Linked DNA regions of Homo sapiens. The protein of the gene in region 1 interacts with the protein of each later gene in a pairwise test. Each region holds a gene or a part of one and is shown in the gene's direction. Other genes may lie near its edges.

The links.
Region 2: the proteins of BICD2 (region 1) and ZSCAN12 interact in binary tests that used the Homo sapiens proteins (3 or more experiments, as listed by UniProt).
Region 3: the proteins of BICD2 (region 1) and ZNF670 interact in binary tests that used the Homo sapiens proteins (3 or more experiments, as listed by UniProt).

The regions. Positions count from the first base shown.
Region 1 is NC_000009.12:92,726,777-92,733,887, reverse strand, and holds part of BICD2 (protein bicaudal D homolog 2), read left to right. Parts: intron 1-4,651; coding exon 4,652-4,864; intron 4,865-7,111. UniProt on the Homo sapiens protein: Acts as an adapter protein linking the dynein motor complex to various cargos and converts dynein from a non-processive to a highly processive motor in the presence of dynactin.
Region 2 is NC_000006.12:28,396,726-28,404,010, reverse strand, and holds the start of ZSCAN12 (zinc finger and SCAN domain-containing protein 12), read left to right. Parts: upstream 1-4,263; 5' UTR 4,264-4,354; intron 4,355-5,244; exon of another isoform or gene 5,245-5,421; intron 5,422-5,537; 5' UTR 5,538-5,605; coding exon 5,606-6,007; intron 6,008-7,285. UniProt on the Homo sapiens protein: May be involved in transcriptional regulation.
Region 3 is NC_000001.11:247,034,089-247,040,874, reverse strand, and holds the end of ZNF670 (zinc finger protein 670), read left to right. Parts: intron 1-1,337; coding exon 1,338-1,464; intron 1,465-2,004; coding exon 2,005-2,065; intron 2,066-2,447; coding exon 2,448-3,426; 3' UTR 3,427-6,238; downstream 6,239-6,786. UniProt on the Homo sapiens protein: May be involved in transcriptional regulation.

The DNA.
Region 1 (7,111 bases):
TCACGCCATTCTCCTGCCTCAGCCTCCCCAGTAGCTGGGACTACGGGCGCCCGCCGCCACGCCTGGCTAATTTTTTGTATTTTTAGTAGAGACGGGGTTTCACTGTGTTAGCCAGGATGGTCTCGATCTCCTGACCTCGTGATCTGCCCGCCTCGGCCTCCCGAAGTGCTGGGATTACAAGCATGAGCCACCGCACCCAGCCTATCTTCTGAAAGTTTTATAGTTTTAGTTCTTATATTTAGGTATTTGATTCATTTTGAGTTAATTTTTGTGTATAATGTGAGGTAGGGGTTCAGCTTCATTATTTTGCATATATGTATCTACTTGCCCCAGCATCATTTGTTGAAAAACTTTTTTTTTTTTCCTCTGTCGTCCAGGTTGGAATACAGTGGCGTGATCTCGGTTCACTGCAACCTCTGCCTCCTGGGTTCAAACCATTCTCCTGCCTCAGCCTCCCAAGAAGCTGGGATTACAGGCACCCGCCACCACGCCCAGCTAATTTTTTTTTATTTTTAGTAGAGACGAGGTTTCACTATGTTGGCCAGGCTGGTCTCGAACTCCTGACCTCGTGATCTGCCCGCCTCGACCTTCCAAAGTGCTGGGATTACAAGCATGAGCCACCGTGCCTGGCCGAAAAACTATTCTTTGACATCAAATTATTTTTGTACCCTTGCCAAAAATCAATTGACCATATATATGAGGTTTTATTTCTGGACTCTATTCTATCCCGTTGGTCTCTGTATCTATCTTTACACTAGTACCACATTGTTTTGATCACTGTAGCTTTGTATTAAGTTTTGAAATTGTGAGTTCTCTCACGTTGTTATTCCCTTTCAATATTGTTTTAGCTCTTCTAGGCCCTTTGCAATTCCATATGAATTTGAAAATCACCTTTTCCATTTCTGCTAAAAAGGCTTTGGAATTTTGGTAGGGATTGCATTGAATTTCAAGTTAATTATCTTTTAAAGAGATTTAAATAAGAAAAATAAGTACTTTATATTTGCCTATTTAATTATCATTTCTTCCATGTAGATAAAGATTTCCATATGGTATTATTTTTCTTCTGCCTGAAGGATTTTATTTAGCATATCTTTAAATACCAATGCATATCTGCTGTTGATAAATTCTTTCAGCTTTTGTATCTCTAAAGTATTTCACCTCTATTTGTGAACAGTTTTCAGTGAGTATAGCATTCTAGTTAAGTTTTTTTGTTTTGTTGTTTAAAAGATGTTGTTCCACTATCTCCTGGCTTGTTAGAGAAATCAGCTGTCATTTATCTTTGCTCCTCTTGAGTCATGTATCCTTTTTCTTCTGGCTGATTTAAATATTTTTATTATATAATTGGTTTTAAACAATTTTATATTATGCCTTGGTGTAGTTTGCTTCATATTTCTTGTGCTTGGTGTTGACAAGCTGCTGATATCTGTGGGTTTATAATTTTCATCAAATTTGGAAAATTTTCAGCTATGATTTATTTCTTCAATTACTTTTTCTATTTTCCCCTTTTTCTCCTTTGGGTACTCCAATTACTCCTTACATAAGGCTTCTTGAAATTGTGTCATACTTCATACTTCACCAATGCTCTGTTTGAGTCTTGCTTTTGTCTTTTAGCCTTTTTTTCTCTGTGTTTCATTTTGGATAGTTTGCTGTGGTTTTTCAAGTTGACTGATCTTTTCTTCTGCATTGTTTTATCTGCTGTGAATCCCATCCACTGTACTTTTCGTCTCTAGAAGTTCTATCTGGATCTTTTTCTGTCTTCCTCATTTGTGCGCCTTTGCCTGCTCAGTGGTAAGTGACGGGATGCCAGCCAGTGGACCTCACCTGTTGGGAGATGGATGTTTTTGTATTCCTTCATGTGTTCTTGAGCTTTGTTCTGGGATGTAGTTAAGTGACTTGGAATCAGATTGATCCTTTCAGGTTTTGTCTTTATGCTTTGCTCTGTGGTATCAGAGCAGATTTAATCCAGACTAATTTTTTCAGGCCCTGGGAGTGCTCCCCAGCTGCCTGTGCATCAGGAGGGCTCTCCTCTGCTGTTGGGAGCAGGTACTGTTTTTGGCTGGTATAAATGGTGGGGATTGCTTTCTCTGCCCCCTCAGTGGTCCTTCAGTGACTTCTTCAGCTCTGTGCTCCCTGGTCCTCAGTGGAGATTCTGGCCCTGTGTGCAGGTCTGCCTAGCTTGGCTGCCCTGCTGCCATCTTCCGCCATCTTCCAGTCCCTCCTTGACAGGGTCTGCCACGCCTTGCCTCAGTCTCCCATTTTTCCATGGCTGGGAAGTTCTTTTGGTGGAGGGGGCTCCTGGAACTCCCCTCCTCCTGTCTCTCACTATCTAGTGCCCATGATGTGAAAACCACTGCTTATTATTTATTTATATTCTATCATTGCCTGGTTTTTTTCTTTTTCTTTTTTTTTTTTAAGTTTTCACACAGAAGGTAGTTCTAATTTCTGCAACAATCTCATCTTGGCTGTACGCGGAAGTCTGTATCTCAGTGTGTTTGAAAAGCTGCCCAGGAGTGTTTTGGGCCCCAGGCTGGGAGCTTAAGCAGAGGAAAAGATCCAGGGCTCAGGCCAGGAGGCTAGGACTTGAATGTCGTGTCATGGCATTTAGCTGTCATACCTGGAGGAAGCTTCTGAGGTGATGTCTGCATCCCCAGCTCCAGGCTCGTGGGTGTGTTCTGAGCAGCCATGTGTGCTGGACCCTTCATTTGGGTCCCTCCTGCTTGTCAGGAGGCCCAGATGGTCTGGCGCTGCCCATGCCGCCTGCAGCCGGCGGGCCCTTCACCCAATGAGGGACTTGGGGCCTGGCTGCCACTTGGGTGGGGAGCCTGCAGCTGGGGCCAATTCCATGTCCGGTTTCCCTTCTTGTGGCCCGGGGTGGCTGGCCAGGGTGGATGAGGTGCTGTGTAGACATTATGATTTGGACCTTCCTTGGGACTAGGATAAGGAAGAACAGAGCAGAAATCACAGAGCTGACCCGATTGCCTTGAAGAAAAGCGGACATCTTCCACGTAGTGGGTGTTGTGTTGATGGGTGGGGGCAGGTGAGCAAGACCCAGCCTCCTCAGGAGTGTGGGTGCCATAGACATCTGTGCATCCGCAGCAGGAGTGTCCATGTCAATCCCGAGTCCCCCCGTGCAGTCCCATTGCCAGCACCAGTCTTCCTGCTGGGCTGTGTTGTCCTGTTAGCCTTGTTTAGGGGTGTCCCCCGCAACACCACGAGACACACACACACAACACATACATCACAGCACATGTCACCACACCTGCCATAGCACATGTGTGCTCTTCCAGGCAGGATCCTGTGATCCTCACAGTGCTGTAAGATCAATCAGTCTGTCTTCCCCTTGAGTCCCCTGTTGGTCCCATGAGAGTCTATACTCAGACTAGACCCTGGTTTCTTTTACCAGTCTCCTGTTGGGACGAAATGAGTTACTCTTTGTTTTGATTTCTTGAAATTAGAAACTGTCCTGCTCAGTAACATCCTTATTCATGGTTTTTTACATTTTCCCTATTTTCTTGGACTGAATTCTTAGATTTAATATTAAATAGTAAATGAGTGAAAAATGCTCCTTTTTCTCTTTTAGGAAAACAAAGCCATCCGCTTTCAGTCACCTCTCTCTTGATCTTGTTTTCTGCCATGAGCCAGGATTAATGTAAAAAGATAAGGTCTTCTGCAAGAGCTCTGTGGTGGAGTGGCCAGTGAGACGGGCTGCTGGGGGTGACACACTGCGGCCCGTCTGCCCTCTACCCATGGAAGCCCTGTCCTGCCACGCCAGCTATGTGGGGGTAGTGGGCAGTGGGAGGGAAGGAGAGGGATGGCACCTGCTTGGAGGCTGGGCCACTCGCCTGGGGTGTACACGATGGGAGGCTGGCTGGCCTGGATTTTGGGGCATGGACATGACACAGCTGTCGACTCTCAGGTGCGTGGGCAGGTGGGCGTCCTGGGCTAGGTGAGCACCCCTTTCTGGTTGATCTCACCCATAAGGTCTCCTCCCTGAGCCCCAAGGCCCTGCACTTCTTTGCCACGTGCAGCCCCCGCGCCCCTTGTTCCTCACCCCTCTGGAACATGCTGGTATCTTGGCTTCTGAGCCAGGAACTGGGCAGAGTGGGTGGTACACTGTGCTGGCCTCTGTCTAGTTCTTACCATCACTGCCATCCTCGGGCCTGGGGCTCTGACTGCTCAGCCCAGGTCTCTCCCAGAAGGAGTGAAGGATGAGCCAGCATCAGGCAGCAGGATGGACAGACTCCCTCTGCCTTTCATATGTGGTGGCCGGCGTGCCATCTGGAGTGGGGAGAAGGTGGGGGCTGTGTGGGAGCTCCCTCTGCCGGCCCCCAGCTGCTGTCACACATGCCCACTGTAGCTCCCTGACTCCAGCACTTGTCTTGCCAGTGCAGACACTGTTCCTCAGAGACCAGGCTTTCTCTTATTTTGGTGAAGCAGATGAACCTTGGGTGCAGCTTGTTGCATTTGCATATGTGCACACCACAGTGCACGCCACAGATGCACCTCCCAGGTCAGGGGGCCTCCCTTCAGGCCCACAGTCCCCGTTGTTGTTGCTGTTGTTCTGCAGCATGAATGTCGCCTGTGAGCTGGGTCTCTATCCTTCGGCGCCCCTGGGAGGCCCACCTCACGAGTGTCTTGTCTTCTGATGCAGGCCTTTGGACAAGCACACACAAACCACAAGAAGGTGGCTGCTGACGGAGAGAGCCGGGAGGAGAGCCTGATCCAGGAGTCGGCCTCCAAGGAGCAGTACTACGTGCGGAAGGTGCTAGAGCTGCAGACGGAGCTGAAGCAGTTGCGCAATGTCCTCACCAACACGCAGTCGGAGAATGAGCGCCTGGCCTCTGTGGCCCAGGAGCTGAAGGAGGTGAGGGGGTGAGGAGGGGCCTAGTCTGTGGCTGCAGCAGTGCCACCAGTGTCACATAGCAGGTGTGCCTGGTGGGTGGCTGGGCTGGGCTGGCCTCTGGGGACGCTGCAGCTGGCTGGTCTGTCTTGCTTTCCTGGTCTCATCCTCCACTGCACTCCACTGCCACTGTCCTCCACGTGGCAGAAGGGAGAGAGATGGACCCACAAGTTCCACTGCCTCTGGCTTGCTTCTGTCTCACTCATGAAGCGAGTCCCATGAGCAAGTCCAGAGCAGAGGAGTGGTCAGTCAGGGAGGGGTGCAGTTAGCCCCTTGTGGAGGCTAAGGGCTGATGCCCATGGGGCACTCCTCGTCATTGGACTCCCCCCTGCCCTGGGAATGTTTTGTGTCACTCAGGGCCTGCACTGTGCCCAGCTGTAATAAGAACACAAACCCCAAATATTCCATGGAGACTCGAGGTAGGGTGTGCGTGTCTGAGAATTAGGGGTGGAGACCACCGCCAGTAGCCCCAGCTGCCACACCCCTGCCTTGTTCACAGCAGAGTGCCCGCAGGGAGGGTCTGGGTGGGTGGTCCCTGGCACCAGAGCCTGTTGGAGTCCTGGGTACCCATGGACAGCCATTGGTACATGGCACAGGCTCTACATCTGGAAATGGGACTGTGGTGTCCGTCCATGAATCCGTCCAAGTCCGTGCATGACTTGTGAACATGAAGTCAGAGGAACCAGCTTGGCTCTTGGGCCCTGATAGGGGCAAAGGCCACAGGACCAGCTGCTCATGGCCCTGACACTAAGGCCCTGGAGTTGTGGAGGACTGGGGAGCCCAGGGGAACGATGTGGCCAAAGCAGGATTTGGGAAGGTTGCTGTGGTGCCTGGAACCTGTGTAGTTTGAGCCCAGCAGGAGGAGGAGAGCCAGGAGTCTCCATCCACTGGGGCAGGTGGGAGGAGAGTCTCGCTGGCTTGAACAGGAGGCTCAGGGAAGGTTGAGTGAGCACCTGAGTGTCTTTTCTCACTGACTGGCACATATTTTAATTGAGCCCTGCCAGGGCCTCGGTGTCTGTGGAACCTGAGGAAACAGTGTGAGCAAAGCCTCATTCTCCTAGAAGGCATGTGGCAGATATCAGGGGAGAGCAGTACCCCGTGCCTGTCCCTGGGGCAGGGGCATGTTCACTGTGGTGCTGAGCCAAGGGCAGGAGGAGTGTCAGGAGAGTCCTGCAGGCCTGGGTGGGGCCCTGAAGGAGGCAGGGTCCAGCTTGGGTTTGGTGGCTACACGGGGAGTGGGCTGTGGGGACAAAAGTGAGGCTGAGACGACTGTCTTGGGGGCAAGAGGGGCCAGTGCCTTCTGAGGAAGGATGAGGCCCCATCACCAAGATGGAGGTGGGATGGTCCCTGGGGACTGCAAGTGGAGCTGGAAGTTGGCACGTGAGCTGCAGTCCTCCTGGCCGTGGCCTTTGAGGGTCAGCCCCAGGTTCTCATTGGGAATGGCTGGAGGAGTGGAGCATGGGTCGGTTGAGAATGGGCTGATACTGGCTTTGCCTTTCACTGAGCCTTGGGGCCTGGGCAAGGCCTTATCTTTAGTCCTGGCCTCAGTTTCCCCATCTGTAAACCGGCAGTCTCTGAAGCCCGTTGTAGAGGATGCCCCACAGGTCTTTCACCCCACATTGTGGGAGCACTTATGGACCCTTGTTCCTGACACAGGAGCACCACCCTCTGCAGCAGATAATCTTACGGGAGGTCAGCAGGGCATAGGCCCTGAGGGTATGCAGTGATTAGGGCTGCTGCTGTTGGCTTAGCATTCCAGTACTGAAGGATGCTGCCCTCGGGGTCAGCAGCGGAGTGAGGGGTCAGAGATCGCTGAGGCCCTAGGGGCCCAGGGAGGAGCTTGGCTTAGACTCAGGGTGGGGAGTCTCAGATCCTGAAGCGGCAGTACATGATCTCATTTCCTCTCACAAGGAGCCCTCTGGTCGGTGGGAGGAGGGGCTGTGTGTATGGAGAGATGTATCCTTGGCTGCCCCAGCTGCCATCTGTCTGGCCCGTCTATTCCTGAAAAGCGTGTGCAGGTGCTGTCTCCCCAGCCCAGCACATTCTGCCCCTTCTCTCTTCCAAGAGGCCTATCTCTGGTGGCAGAGGCCAAAGAGGGCTGGGTGACCCTGCTGGCTTCAGGTAAGACTGGAAATGAGCACAGCAAGTTAAAGATGCTGCAGGTCTTGTGGGGAAGAGAGGATTTCTGTGGTTCCTGTTTGTGCTTCAGGA
Region 2 (7,285 bases), on another chromosome or scaffold:
ACTTGGACACAGGGCGGGGTACATCACACACCGGGGCCTGTCGTGGGGTGGGGGGATAGGGGAAAGCATTAGGAGAAATACCTAATGTAAATGATGAATTAGTGGGTGCAGCAAACCAACATGGCACATGTATACATATGTAACAAACCTGCACGTTGTGCACATGTACCCTAGAACTTAAAGTATAATAAAAAATAAATAAATAATAAAAAAAGATAAAAAAGAAATTGTTAACTATAGCCTATAAAAAATTACCTTATACTGTATACATAATAATTTCCATAAAAATTGGAGCTATACCTGGCCTAAAATTTAGTGCAAGTCCTCAACATCAAGCTTTTTCCTAACTGGAAATTTAAATATCAACTACAAATTGAAAATTGCATGTTGACTATGTCATTGAAACGAAGGAAAGTTAATATTCTTAGGAAATAGTCTAATCAAACTGTTACAATCTGGTAAACATCTGATCTTGTTATCTATTGCTGCATAAATAGTTACTCCAAAACAGTGGACAAAAACACACCATCATGTTTTGGGCCAGGAATTTGGGGAGGACTTAGCTGAGAAATTCTTCTGTTTCATGTGGTGTCAACTAAGATCACATGCTGGTATTCATCTGGCAGTATAATTTGTCTGGAAAATCCAAGACAGCTTCACTGCCATGCCAAGTGCCTTGGCAGGGACAGCCAGAAAAGTGGGCTTAGCCGGGCTGATCTTCTCCATGTGGTCTCAGAGCTTCTTTATGTGGTCTCGGAGACACACAAAGCTCACTTTGGGGTCATCTTTTTGGCATCTTGAAGGATTCTTGCAACTCAGTCACTGGAAAGCAGGGTTGGCAGACTTCTTCCATGGTGGCTCAGGACTTCAAGAGCAATTGTTCTAAAAGACAAAAAGTGAAAGCTGCTGCTCTCCAAAGGCTCAGGCCAGAAACCACAGCATCACTTTTGCAGTATTTTATTGGTCAAATTAATGATTAACCCCACTCAGATTCAAGGGAAAGTGACATAGACCCCACATCTTGATGAGAAATGCCAAATAATTTGTAGTCATCTTTAATTTTCCACAATACCTTTATCCACCTCAGATTTAAAGTCTGAAGGAAAAATAAGCCTTTTTTTGAAATCTTTTCCCAAATAACTTTTTTCTCAATTGTCTCCATCCCCTTTCAACCTCACTAAATAAACCTGGCACAATTATGAGCTAATCAAGTTTATACATGCTTTCATTTTCACAAAGTAACAAAGTGAGCTTCCAATATTACAGTTTTACCTTTTCTCTTAGTCTTTGAGTCCTAGATCTCAACATCTGCTTTTTTTCCCTTTTAAGTGCAGTTAGAAGGCTTATCAATATATCACAGGAAGCTTTCTCCTTTTTAAATGTTAGAGTTATTTTGTTAGTAAAATGGCCAAAAAGTGTTAGTAATAATGTTAGACAAAAATTGTTTAAAATAAAGGTATTCTGGAGATCCATTTTGTCTGCTCTTTGTCTCTATATCCTTGTGTTTCTCTAGTGTCAAAAGACGGAGATTGGTTTTACTCGGAGTTCTGTCTTAAGCTCTCTTTGTGCTTAGATGCTCTTTTCTTCTGGCTACATTGCATCTGTGACAAAAAGTTGACTGTTTCACCTAGGTCCCTGGGAACTATGCCAAGTCAATCATCCTTGGTGCAAGCTGACTTTTTAAGTGAGACTTTCATATCAGCTTCTTACAGTAAGTCATGCCAAGTGGAACTTGGAAAACAACTGCATTGCAAAAATCCTTCAAGATGCCTGGAAAAGGACCCCAAAGTGAGCTTGAGGGACACTTCCAGGTTGAATTCAAGTTGTTGTCCAATAATTTCTCTGTCTGTTGTTTTCTGAGATGTTCTACGGCTTCAGGTGAGATTTGAGCCCTGGCACGGTGTGAGGAGGGATCTCTCTCTCCCTTCTCCGCAGACGCCCTGAAAGAAGAATCTATAGGGCTGGCAGTAGGGGGCAAAGGGCACTCCAGAAATCTGTCCTAGGCTGTTTTTTAGCACCACACACTTCATGAGATATCTTAATCATTTTAACCATTACTGAAAGGTGGAAGGCTCCAAAATATGGATCTCAAGCTAACTCTCTTCTCATGACTCCTAGACCCACAAATCCCTAAACCAATCCATTAACAAATAGCAACATCTACAGTGTAATGCTTCCTAGGATTTCGAACTTAACATGGCCAAGCTGTGCTCATAAATTTCTTCTCAAAATGCTACTTGTCATTTAGTGTCCCCTGTCTTGGTGGAGGGACCACCATCCTCTGACGATACCAGGCTTTTTTTTTTTTTTTTTTTGGTTCTCTTATCCCCCACATAATCAATGATGAAGCCCTGATCCATTTTTCCTCCTGAGAATTTCTCAATTTCATCCCCTCATATTTGGCATTTTAAAAATCAGGCCTCTCCTGATCTCATTTAATCTTGTGTGTGTGTCACTTCATATTTTTGTCAAAGTATCTTTGAGATGGATTTCTAGAAGTGGTATTGCAGGAACAAAGGGTAAACTTACATATATAATTTTGCTGTATAGTATTATCTTTCATACCTATGGGTTGTACCATTTTGCATTCCCACTAGAATGTTAAGAGTTTCTCCTTCCTCATGAGTAGAGCATGCTGTCAAACTTTTGTACCATTGCCAATCTGATGACTAACGGTGCCTCAGTCAGCATAGTTTTTAATTTGTATGTTCATATTTTGAGTGAAGTTGAACATATTTACAGATGTTTGAGGGCTGCTAGCATTTCTTATTCTGTCAACTATTTATTTCTTTTGGCCATTTTCTCTATTGGGTTATTGGTTATTCTCAACTTTTAGGAGCTCTTTAGGTATTTGGAAAACTAGCCCTTGCCTGTGATATGTTGCAAGCCTTTTTCTTTCCTTATTTTTTTTTGACAAGCAATACATTTTATTTTCATGTAGCCAGATTTATTATTTTTATGGGTTTTAGATTTTGAGTCATATGGTTAGATAATGTTTCCCTATTCCCACGTGTTAGAATTATTATTCATGTTTTCTTCTAATACATGTATAGGTGGATTTTTTATATTTAGATCTCAGATCCATTTAGAATTTATCTCTATTGTGATGTGTGGTGGGAAATACAAATCCAGTTTTACCTTTGCCAAACGGTTATCATCCCAGCACAACTTCTAAGTTCTTCATTTCCCTGTTGATATGTGGTGTCACCTTCATCATTTACTCAATATCCTTACATACCTGGATCCATTTCTGGTCTATTCTTTCTCTCTGTTAATACACTAAAATTATATGGGTATGTTCCAGTATCTGATAAGGTTGACCCTCACCATTTTTCTTTTTCATGGGTTTCCTGGCTATTCTTATTTCCCCACATGAATTTTATAATCAGTTTATCTAATTCCAGAACAATATTTGTTGATATTTTTGTTGGAATACTACAGTTGCATACGTATTTAGGGAGGACTGACCTCTTTGAGTCTTTCCAAGAACCTCATATCGCTTTCTGTTTGTTTAAATGTATACTTGGCCTTTTAGGAATGTTTTAAAGCTTTCCCCATAGAAGTTTTGTTCATTTCTTGTTAAGTTTATTCCTAGTTTCACTTTTTTGCTGCTCTTGTAAATATGGTCTTCTCTTCCATTATATCTCGTAACTCGTTATCATTGATTATTCACATATATGAAGGTCGTTGATTTTAGTGTGTTAACTTTATATCTTGCTATTTTACTAAATTATCCTTTTTTTATAGTTTTTCCATTGAACCGGGTTTTCTGACATATAATCATACATCAGCACATAAAAGAGAACATCAAAAGAATCGTGGATGGCGAAAGAGCCGGCAGAAACCAGCCGGCTGGCCCTTGAGAAGTCTGTGTGGAAGAAGTCCCTTCGCCACCGCTAAGCGCGGATTTGGGAAGGTCCCCCGGAGAACATCCCTTTGAGGCATCTCTAACCTCAGAGACACAGAATCCCAAAGTGAATGGAGACGCAAGGGATTTCCCTGTCTTAAGATCAGTTCTACAAGCCTCGACCACCCATCGGGTCGGGGGAAGTGTGGACAATGGCTGGGTAAAGAAGAGGAGAAGATAAACCCGTTCCATTTACCAGCGGGCCTGAAAGCCATCAACCTTCCTCTCACGTAGACGCGCGGAAACACTACCGAGTTGAAAGCCCCTTTCGCTCCCTTCCTAGAGCGGCCGCGGAAGTGCGCCCCGCGCGGGCTGGTTCTTAGACCCCCCGTGGCCGCTTCCGGCCTTTGTGGGTCACTTTTGATGGGTTCCGGGTCCCAAAAGGGTTCGAGGCCTCTTGCCTTCGCTCCGTAGGAGGGAGTTCTCTTCTGGCCCTGGGGGCCGCAGGTGAGCGATGTTGTGCTCTGTACGCTGCGAGCAGGTGGGCGGGAGATTGCTGTATTCCAGCTGCTGGGCCCCTCAGGCCCTGGCCGGTGCAGAGTGGACCCCGGTCCTCCCAAACCCAGGCGGATCCGCGGGAAGCTCTCCCTCCCCAAAGTGCGTTGGGACATTAGGATGAGGGTTTGGCTCCCAGTCTCTGCAGCAATTCCAGGCTGTAAGGCCCATACCTTCCGCGTTTGCTTCGGGCTGTGTATCCTTGGGTTCAGCGCTTACCGACATTTCTGGACAGTGGTGGGTCACAGACGCTCGCCGGCGTCCTAGGGACCCTTTCCTGGGCCTTCCTCACTTCAGATTATAATCACAGACCACGAGGTTAGAGGGAAGCCTTAAAGAGTAACCTCTTCAGCCTTCTCACTTTATAAATGAAGAATGAGGAGCAGAAAGATTAAGTCCCTGAAGAAATAAATTTACATGACTGTAGCTTTTGTGATTTCATGGTTTCCACCAGACATCTGGACATTCAAAAGATAAAAGTAACTAATCAAGGATGTCCTAACCTTTTGTTATTATTATTTACTTGATCTAAATGTTAGTTTTATTCCATTTGTCTTTCATTTAGGACCAAATGAGAATAAGTTTACCAACAAGTCTTACTCTTAAGTCCTGAAACAACTTGGCACCTTTCCTCAGTCTTTCTCTTTAAATTAGTCTAATCTTTTTTTTTTTTTTTGAGACGGAGTCTCGCTCTGTCGCCCAGGCTGGAGTGCAGTGGCGCGATCTCGGCTCACTGCAAGCTCCGCCTCCCGGGTTCACGCCATTCCCCTGCCTCAGCCTCCTGAGTAGCTGGGACTACAGGCGCCCGCCGTCACGCCCGGCTAATTTTTTTTTTTTTTTTTTTTTTGTATTTTTAGTAGAGACGGGGTTTCACCATGTTAGCCAGGATGGTCTCGATCTCCTGACCTCGTGATCCGCCCGACTCGGCCTCCCAAAGTGCTGGGATTACAGGCGTGAGCCACTGTGCCCGGCCTAAATCGGTCTAATCTTAAGTCTTTTCTATCAGAGTATTTTTCTGAGTAAGTATTGTACATTAATCCGGAGGTCAGATTTCAAAGGTCATAGTTAAGTTCTCAGAATTTGCAGTTTTACTTTATGGTGGAGTTTGTATTAATAATGATGGCTTATTCTTCAGGACTGTCCAGGAATACAGTTTCCAGGTGAGATCTTACTTGAAACACCGGTAGTTCTAGCACAGCTAAAATGGCATCTACTTGGGCTATCCAGGCCCACATGGACCAGGATGAACCTTTGGAAGTAAAGATAGAGGAAGAGAAATATACCACCAGACAGGATTGGGACCTGCGTAAAAACAACACCCATAGCAGAGAGGTCTTCCGTCAGTACTTCAGACAGTTCTGCTACCAGGAGACATCTGGTCCCCGTGAGGCTTTGAGCCGACTCCGAGAACTTTGCCATCAGTGGCTGAGGCCAGAGACCCACACCAAAGAACAGATTCTGGAGCTGCTGGTGCTGGAGCAGTTCCTGACCATCCTACCTGAGGAGCTCCAGGCCTGGGTGCAGGAGCAGCATCCAGAGAGTGGGGAGGAGGTGGTGACTGTGCTGGAGGATTTAGAGAGAGAACTGGATGAACCAGGAGAGCAGGTGAGAAAAAAGATGTGACTTCTGCTTGAGAAAACATAAATTGTGGATTTCTAGGCCAGAGTGAAGAACAGCCATTTTTTCACAAAGCATGTTTTTGACAGTTTGGTGCATCAGAAAGGGGCATGAGTTTCACGGAAAGTTGGCTAATGTGGTCCCAACTTATTTATAACTTTTCTGTGGAAGGATTTTATATTTCTCTATTAAGCTACAAAATTCTGTTTGATAAACATGCTGCTCATCTTAGAAAACTTCTAAGACAAGAGAAAGTATCAAAGAGATGACAGTAGCAGGATGGGAAGCAGTCTCTTGGAGGGGCATCACTCTGTTGCACAATACAAATAATTAAGAATTAAGGTTTTGCAGATATATCCATTGCTCTGACTCCATTACAGGGTTTTAAAATGAAGACATTAACTATTTCAGGGGAATGAGATGTGGGAGTACAATGGAAAGTTAGTGAGGAGAGCAGGGTGGGGAATCTGTGTTTCTTTGAGTAGCAGAAAGCCCAGTTAGGTTGGAAAGGTGAATTCCAAATAGCAGAGTTGAGATAGTGTCCAGGACCTTGAATCTCAACCTCTGGAATTGAGATTTTATTCTGTAGGACAGATGCCCCTAACCTTTTCTCCTTGAGTCTAAATGAGCTTTACTAATTGTAAGATGTAAAAGAGAACCAAATTATGTAGAACGTTTTTGTTTTGTTTTTAATACTAAAATGAGACAGTGGTTCTCAACCAGTGCCAATTTTGTGCACCAGAGGGCATTTGGCAATGTCTTGGGACATTTTTGGTTGTTATAACTTGGGGAGGTGCTGCTAGTATCTAGTGGATCACTCGGGGAGGTGCTGCTAGTATCTAGTGGGTAGAGAGGGCAAGGCTAATGCTAAACCTCTTAAAACACACAGGACAGCCCCAGACAACAAAGTCAGTAGAGCCAATGCTAGGAACATGTCAGTAGAGCCAATGCTGGGAAACCCCGGTATAAAGAGTTTGAAACTTAGGGAAATAATGAAACAGAAGTATAATCTAGCACTGTGATACAAAATGCAATAGAGAGGGTAGGAACATGTGGCAAAAATATCTAAGTTTGAAATAGGATCATGAGGCCAGGCACGGTGACTCATGCCTGTAATCCTAGCGCTTGGGAGGCCAAGGGAGGTGGATCACCTGAGGTCAGGAGTTCAACGCCAGCCTGGGCAACATGGTGAAACCCCGTCTCTACTAAAAATACAAAAGTCAGCCGGGTGTGGCAGGACATGCCTGTAATCCCAGGTACTTGGTA
Region 3 (6,786 bases), on another chromosome or scaffold:
AAAAATACAAAATCAGCTGGGCGTGGTGACACATGCCTGTAATCTCAGCTACTCGGGAGGCTGAGGCAGGAGAATCGCTTGAACCTGGGAGGCAGCGGAGGATGTGGTGAGCCGAGATCACGCCATTGCACTCCAGCCCGGGCAACAAGAGTAAATCTCCATCTCACCAAAAAAATAAAATAAAAAAATAAAATAAAAATAAATTCCTGCTTATTTAAAACTTTTTTCCCTTTTGGACTATTTGTTTATCTCCACATTAATACTGTCCTGAATATTATAGTTTGAAAATTCTGATACATGGTAAGGAAGCCATTGCCCTATTGTTTGGAAGACTTTGACAATTCTTAGACATTTTTTTTTTGTTAGGTTTGGAAAAGTAGTTTTCAGTTGCTAATAAAGTGTCTGTTTTGGGGATTGATGGAATTTTTTAAGGCTATTTGAAAGAGGTGATATCTTGATGACATTGAGTTTCTTCTAAGCACACGTACTATCTTTCCACTTACTCCATTGCACTTTGTTGTTATCCAATAGAAATTTTAAAATTGTTTTGTTTGTTATTAAAGATAAATTATCAGTCTTATTTACAACTGGGTTTAATTTGGTCTGGAGTAAACTACTTGCAAGCTTCCAAATATTTTCTTATTATAATCACGTTGATGCCTCATTTCTCCAGTTAACAAGTTGTAACAGCATATGAGAAATATTGTTTACCAAGAATGCTCATTAGAGACTTAATGCTCAGAGTGTTTTTCAGAGCTGATCCCCTAGGTACCACTGCAAGAATGGAGTAAAGTAGTAGGCTTTCAGAAACAAAACAAAACTGGAGTTCAGCGAATAATATATTGTTTGCATAAGATTGTTTACATATTGTGAACCACTCACTTAGGGTGATGAGATCCGTCAAAAAAATCTATTTTCTCACACCAAAAGGTCAGACTTTGTGAGCAGGTATTTCTAAGGATATGTAGTCTTAAGACTTAATACTAACTGTTATACACAACAAATAGCATGACTTCGTTATGAGAGGCCCTTAAGATAAAATCTACACATAGAAATTAGGGGTGACCTCATTTCTTACAGCACAGTTTATTCCCTGCACCTGCCAATGAGACAGGTGTTCCTACTCTGCTGTTGACTTTCTGAATAGTTTCATTTTAGCATGAAGAATGTTGAGTGGGCAGCAGTAAGTGCAGACAGAGAGTAAAGTTCTGATGACCAGGTCATGGAAGAAATGTTTGAAGTCTGCAGAATTATGTTACGATTTTATGAGATGAGTATAGATTCTTAGTACTGTCTGTCTAAGCCATCCTCCTCTCCACATATGTGCGATATTCTAGGATTCAGTGTCATTTGAAGATGTGGCTGTGGCCTTTACTCAGGAGGAGTGGGCTTTGCTGGATCCTTCTCAAAAGAATCTCTACAGAGATGTGATGCAAGAAATCTTCAGGAACCTGGCTTCTGTAGGTAAGAATAACAACACTTATTCACGTAGTTGATTACAACGCAAGTGTTTTGGCTGGGCGTGGTGGCTCACACCTGTAATCCCAGCACTTTGGGAGGCCAAGGCGGGTGAATCGCCTGAGGTCAGGAGTTCAAGACCAGCCTGGCCAACATGGTGAAACCCCATCTCTACCAAAAAAATAAAAAAATTAGCCAGGCGTGGTAGCAGGCGCCTGTAATCCCAGCTACTTGGGAGCCTGAGACAGGTTAATTGCTGGAACCTAGGAAGTGGAGGTTGCAGTGAGCCGAGATTGAGCCACTGCACTCCAGCCTGGTCAACGAAGAAACAATCTGTCTCAAAAAAAAAAAAAAAAGAAAGAAAGAAAAAAGAAAAGAAGAAGAAAACAAGTGTTTCTTGGTTATGAATGTTTCCTGATTTGGCATGTGGAAAGGGAGTACTTTGGTGAAAAAAATTAGTTATGGTCACAGTGTATAGTGAACCTTGAATCTAGCAATTTTTAAAGTTTCTAATCATTTGAATAATCTTATGGTTGTACCTTTTAGGAAACAAATCAGAAGACCAGAATATCCAAGATGACTTCAAAAATCCTGGGAGAAATCTAAGGTAATTTGCATTCACAAGAGCAAAAATGCCCCTTGAGGGAATCTTAGCATGTCATAAGTTTTTAAAACAGACAAAACAACTAAGAACCACTAGAAATTTTTTTTTTCCAGAAAAGTCTTAGCAAAAAATACACCTGAATGTAACATTGATGTTCAATATTTTCAGAATATTTTACTTGGAAACACCACCAAGATACTGTACATGTGACTATCACAATTATGATAATAATGATAATAGCTATGGGGGACCCATATCTTACAGTAATTAATTTATTTACTTTAAAACAATTTAGATATGGCAGGAAACTTGCATTTTCCATGGTATTAGTAGCAATGTAAACCATGAATAAATGTACCATTAATGATGTTTATCATTTTTACAGCAGTCATGTGGTAGAGAGACTGTTTGAAATTAAAGAAGGCAGTCAATATGGAGAAACCTTCAGCCAGGATTCAAATTTGAATCTGAATAAGAAAGTTTCTACTGGAGTAAAGCCATGTGAATGCAGTGTGTGTGGAAAAGTCTTCATATGTCATTCAGCCCTTCATAGGCACATCCTGTCTCACATTGGAAACAAACTATTTGAGTGTGAGGAATGTCCAGAGAAGTTATATCATTGCAAACAATGTGGGAAAGCCTTTATCTCTCTCACCAGTGTTGACAGACACATGGTAACACACACTAGTAATGGGCCTTATAAGGGTCCAGTGTATGAGAAGCCTTTTGATTTTCCTAGTGTATTTCAAATGCCTCAGAGCACTTACACTGGAGAGAAAACATATAAATGTAAACATTGTGATAAAGCCTTCAATTATTCAAGTTATCTTCGTGAACATGAAAGAACTCATACTGGAGAGAAACCCTATGCATGTAAGAAATGTGGTAAATCATTCACTTTTTCCAGTTCTCTTCGCCAACATGAAAGATCTCATACTGGAGAGAAACCCTATGAATGTAAGGAATGTGGCAAAGCCTTCAGTCGTTCCACTTACTTGGGAATACATGAAAGAACGCATACTGGAGAAAAACCCTATGAATGTATAAAATGTGGCAAAGCCTTTAGATGTTCCAGAGTCCTCAGAGTCCATGAAAGGACTCACAGTGGAGAAAAGCCCTATGAATGTAAACAATGTGGTAAAGCCTTCAAATATTCTAGTAACCTATGTGAGCATGAAAGAACTCACACTGGAGTGAAACCTTATGGATGTAAGGAATGTGGTAAGTCGTTTACTTCTTCCAGTGCCCTTCGAAGCCATGAAAGGACTCATACTGGAGAAAAACCCTATGAATGTAAGAAATGTGGTAAAGCCTTCAGTTGTTCCAGTTCCCTTCGAAAGCATGAAAGAGCTTATATGTGGTAAAAAACAACAACAACAAAACACCTCTGTCAATGTAAGAAGTGTGTTAAAGCTTTCAGTTATTCTAGTTTCATTAGAACACGTGAAAAAATTAAAAACTCAAATTAGAGAGAAACCCAACACATGTAAGGAAGATTAGAATGTATGCAATTTTCCTAGTTCCCTTCTAAAACTTAGAAGGACCCGTCCTGGGAAAGAACGTCATAAAATACGAAAAATGTGTTAGAACACTTTATTTTCCCAGCCGCTTTCAAATATATTTTTATCAGTGGTTCATTGTTAAAGAAGGTGTCTATACTTTAGATTTTCAGTTTTTTGCAGGGAATCATGGAGCTGAGAATTTCACAGATACTTTATAAGCCATAGTACATGAGCTTAATAGGCTGTGTTTTGTTTCTCATCAGTTAACATAATTTTTGTCTATTCATTTAAAAATTTGTTGGATCCCTAGACTAAGTTGAAATGTATTTCTAATAGTAGGCAATTTTAATTTTCATGTAGTTGTTTAATTGTTCTCTAATTAATGGACCAATGAAAAATGAGTTCATGTGTGTGTGTGTGTGTGTGTGTGTGTGTGTGTATTCTACCTTTTTATGGGAAAACTACTTTTTTGTTGTAAAGATTTTCTTCTGTTTTCTTTGCTAATAAAGAATTGTTATTAATTTGCATGTATGTGAAGTTTATATAGTCTCATGTACATTGTTATTTTCATTTTCTTTCCTTTATTCTGTCATGAGTTTTGGCTGTTACTTGCATAGTTCACTTTTTTAAAAAATGTTATGTTTTTAGAGAGGGTCTCACTTTGTCAGCTAGGCTGAAGTGTAGTGGTAATAATAGTCTTAGCTCACTGCAGCCTCAAATTCCTGGGCTCAAGTGATTCTCCCACCTTAGCCTCCTATGTAGCTGGAGCTACAGACACATGCCACCATGCTCAGCTAATTATATAATTTTAAAAATTTTTTATAGAGATGGGATCTCGCTGTATTGTCTAGGCTGGTATTGAATTCCTGGCCTCAAGCTATCCTCCTGCCTCAGCCTGTCTACATGTTGGGGTTACTGACATGAGCTACCACACCTGGCCCACTTTTTACTTTGAATTAAGAAGAGAGAACTGTGATTGGACAGTATGCTTGTCTAATCTGCGTGTGAAAGCATTCAGTCTCACCATCAAGTATATTGTGGATTTTTCATAAATATTCTCAAACAGGCTCAGGAAGTTTTCTTGTGTTTTTTATTTATTGTTTCATGGTAAAGGAGTGTTGAACTCTTATGACATGTTTTTTTCTGCATCTATTGAGATGATTTGTGGTTTTTGGCATTCTACTGATAGTCTATTACGTTAACTGGCTTTCAGATATAAATATATTATGGTTATCTGGGTGAAATTTGTCTTCATCATGGAATATAAGTATTTTATCTACAGGTTGAACATCTGTAAACCCCAGATTCCAATACCAAATCTGAAATGCTCCGAAGTCAAAAACTGTTTGAGCACCAGTCTTATGCTCAACAGAAATGCTCATTAGAGGATTTTTGATATTTGGATTAGGGATGCTCATCCAGTAAGTTTTCTGCAAATATTCCAAAATGTTAAAAGTCTGAAATCCAAAGCACTTCCGTTCCCAAGTATTTCAGATAAGAAACACTCAACCCATATTGATAACGTTCAATTTTCCAGTGTATTGTTGGGGCCTTTTGCATTTATAGTCAAATTGGTGTGCCCTAGTATACCATATAGTATAGCATCATCTGTATATATAGCATGTCTACATGTATACTTATATGTGTATAAGTAGCTATATAATATGTGGTATAGTACAGTTTTGTAAGTTACTATGAATTATGCATAACTAGTTTATATTATGTGTAATTAGCACTACAATAAATTGTATATTACAGGATTATGGCATTATAACATACTATTTTGATCTTATCAGTCTGTAGCCTAACATATTTCAGTTGCCTACCATTCCACAGATGCATTTAAACAAACCAATTGCATCCTTATGAGAACCAAGAAGCATCTCACGTTCTTGATACTACAAAGCATTCCCCTTACACCCTGTTTGTTCTATCTGCTCCGTAGTGCAAGTCTTGTGTGGACCAGCCTCGTTTACAGAACCCTCCCTTTTTTGTCTATGAATGTATGTAACTAATAACTTCTCTCAATCTTATCTGTACACTCATGGGTGTCACGTGTTTTTCCCAGTAGTCTTAGGGTCCTAATTTTTCCTGTCACCCATGAGACTGTGAAAACAATTGGCATTACCAACAGAATGAACCAACCATGACTGATGATATCTTTTCAGCTTTAACTACCTGCTTTTGTCTAACTGGTTCCATAATATAACAGAAGTCACCTGAATTAGAAACAGCAATTGATGGTGGACTTTCACTTTGGTCTACACAGTGCTTTGTGTTATCAGCTGTTGCCACCTCTTCCCACAGTAGAACTCTCAACTCCTAGACATGACTGGTTGACCAGCCGTTCCCCAGGAGGATGTATGTTCCACCTTGACCTGTGTTTGGCAGGCAGTTTCCAAGGTACCCCACATTGAGGCAGTGACCCAGCACCTTCACCACTGGGTTCTTTATTCCTGATTATCAAAAGTCAGACTACTGCTCTGTGGTAACTGCATCTCGTTTGGTTGCCATCACTGGATGCTTGGAGTAGCCATGTGAACGTTATTACTGTACACACTTGGGACAGCTCCAGGGATTTTGTGTGTGTGAAGTTGCAGAAAGGAAGAATGTCCCCATGCTGGGGAGAATTAAGCATGTCACCTAATTGTGTAACAAGATGACTTGTGCAAGACTAGTGGCCTTGAGTGTTTTCTTGTGCTGTTGCTTTTATGTGCATTCTTCTGATGAGGTGCACATCCATGGTGCCTCTTGGTCCAGGCACTGATGAGTCAAGAAAAGGGGAGGAAGCATTTGGCATTAGCCTCTTTCATTGCAGAACCTCTATCTAGTATATGGGCTTCTTTTAGCACTACTGATCAGCATGCCAAAGGCCTAACCTTGCAACCTAGATGACCTTAGTCAAAATGACCTTACTGTATGTTGCTAACACCAGCAAGATTGAGTGGCACTCACTGGAGGATTAGGTGTTCTTCAATGTGGGTTGACGGACTCCTGAACTGTTTTCTTTAACCACACAGATTGCCCACACTACCGATAAATCAAATGCTGCTACTTTGCATGAGAAGAATTAAAAGATAGTCTGAAGCAGTTTTTATAGAAAGAAGACAAAAGCAGTCATGAGTCATGCTGTGGTCCAGAAACCTAATAGCAGATGGCCAACTGGGACACTGAAATTTCTGTACTGCTACTGCCTATGTTTCTATCACAACAAATATCCTG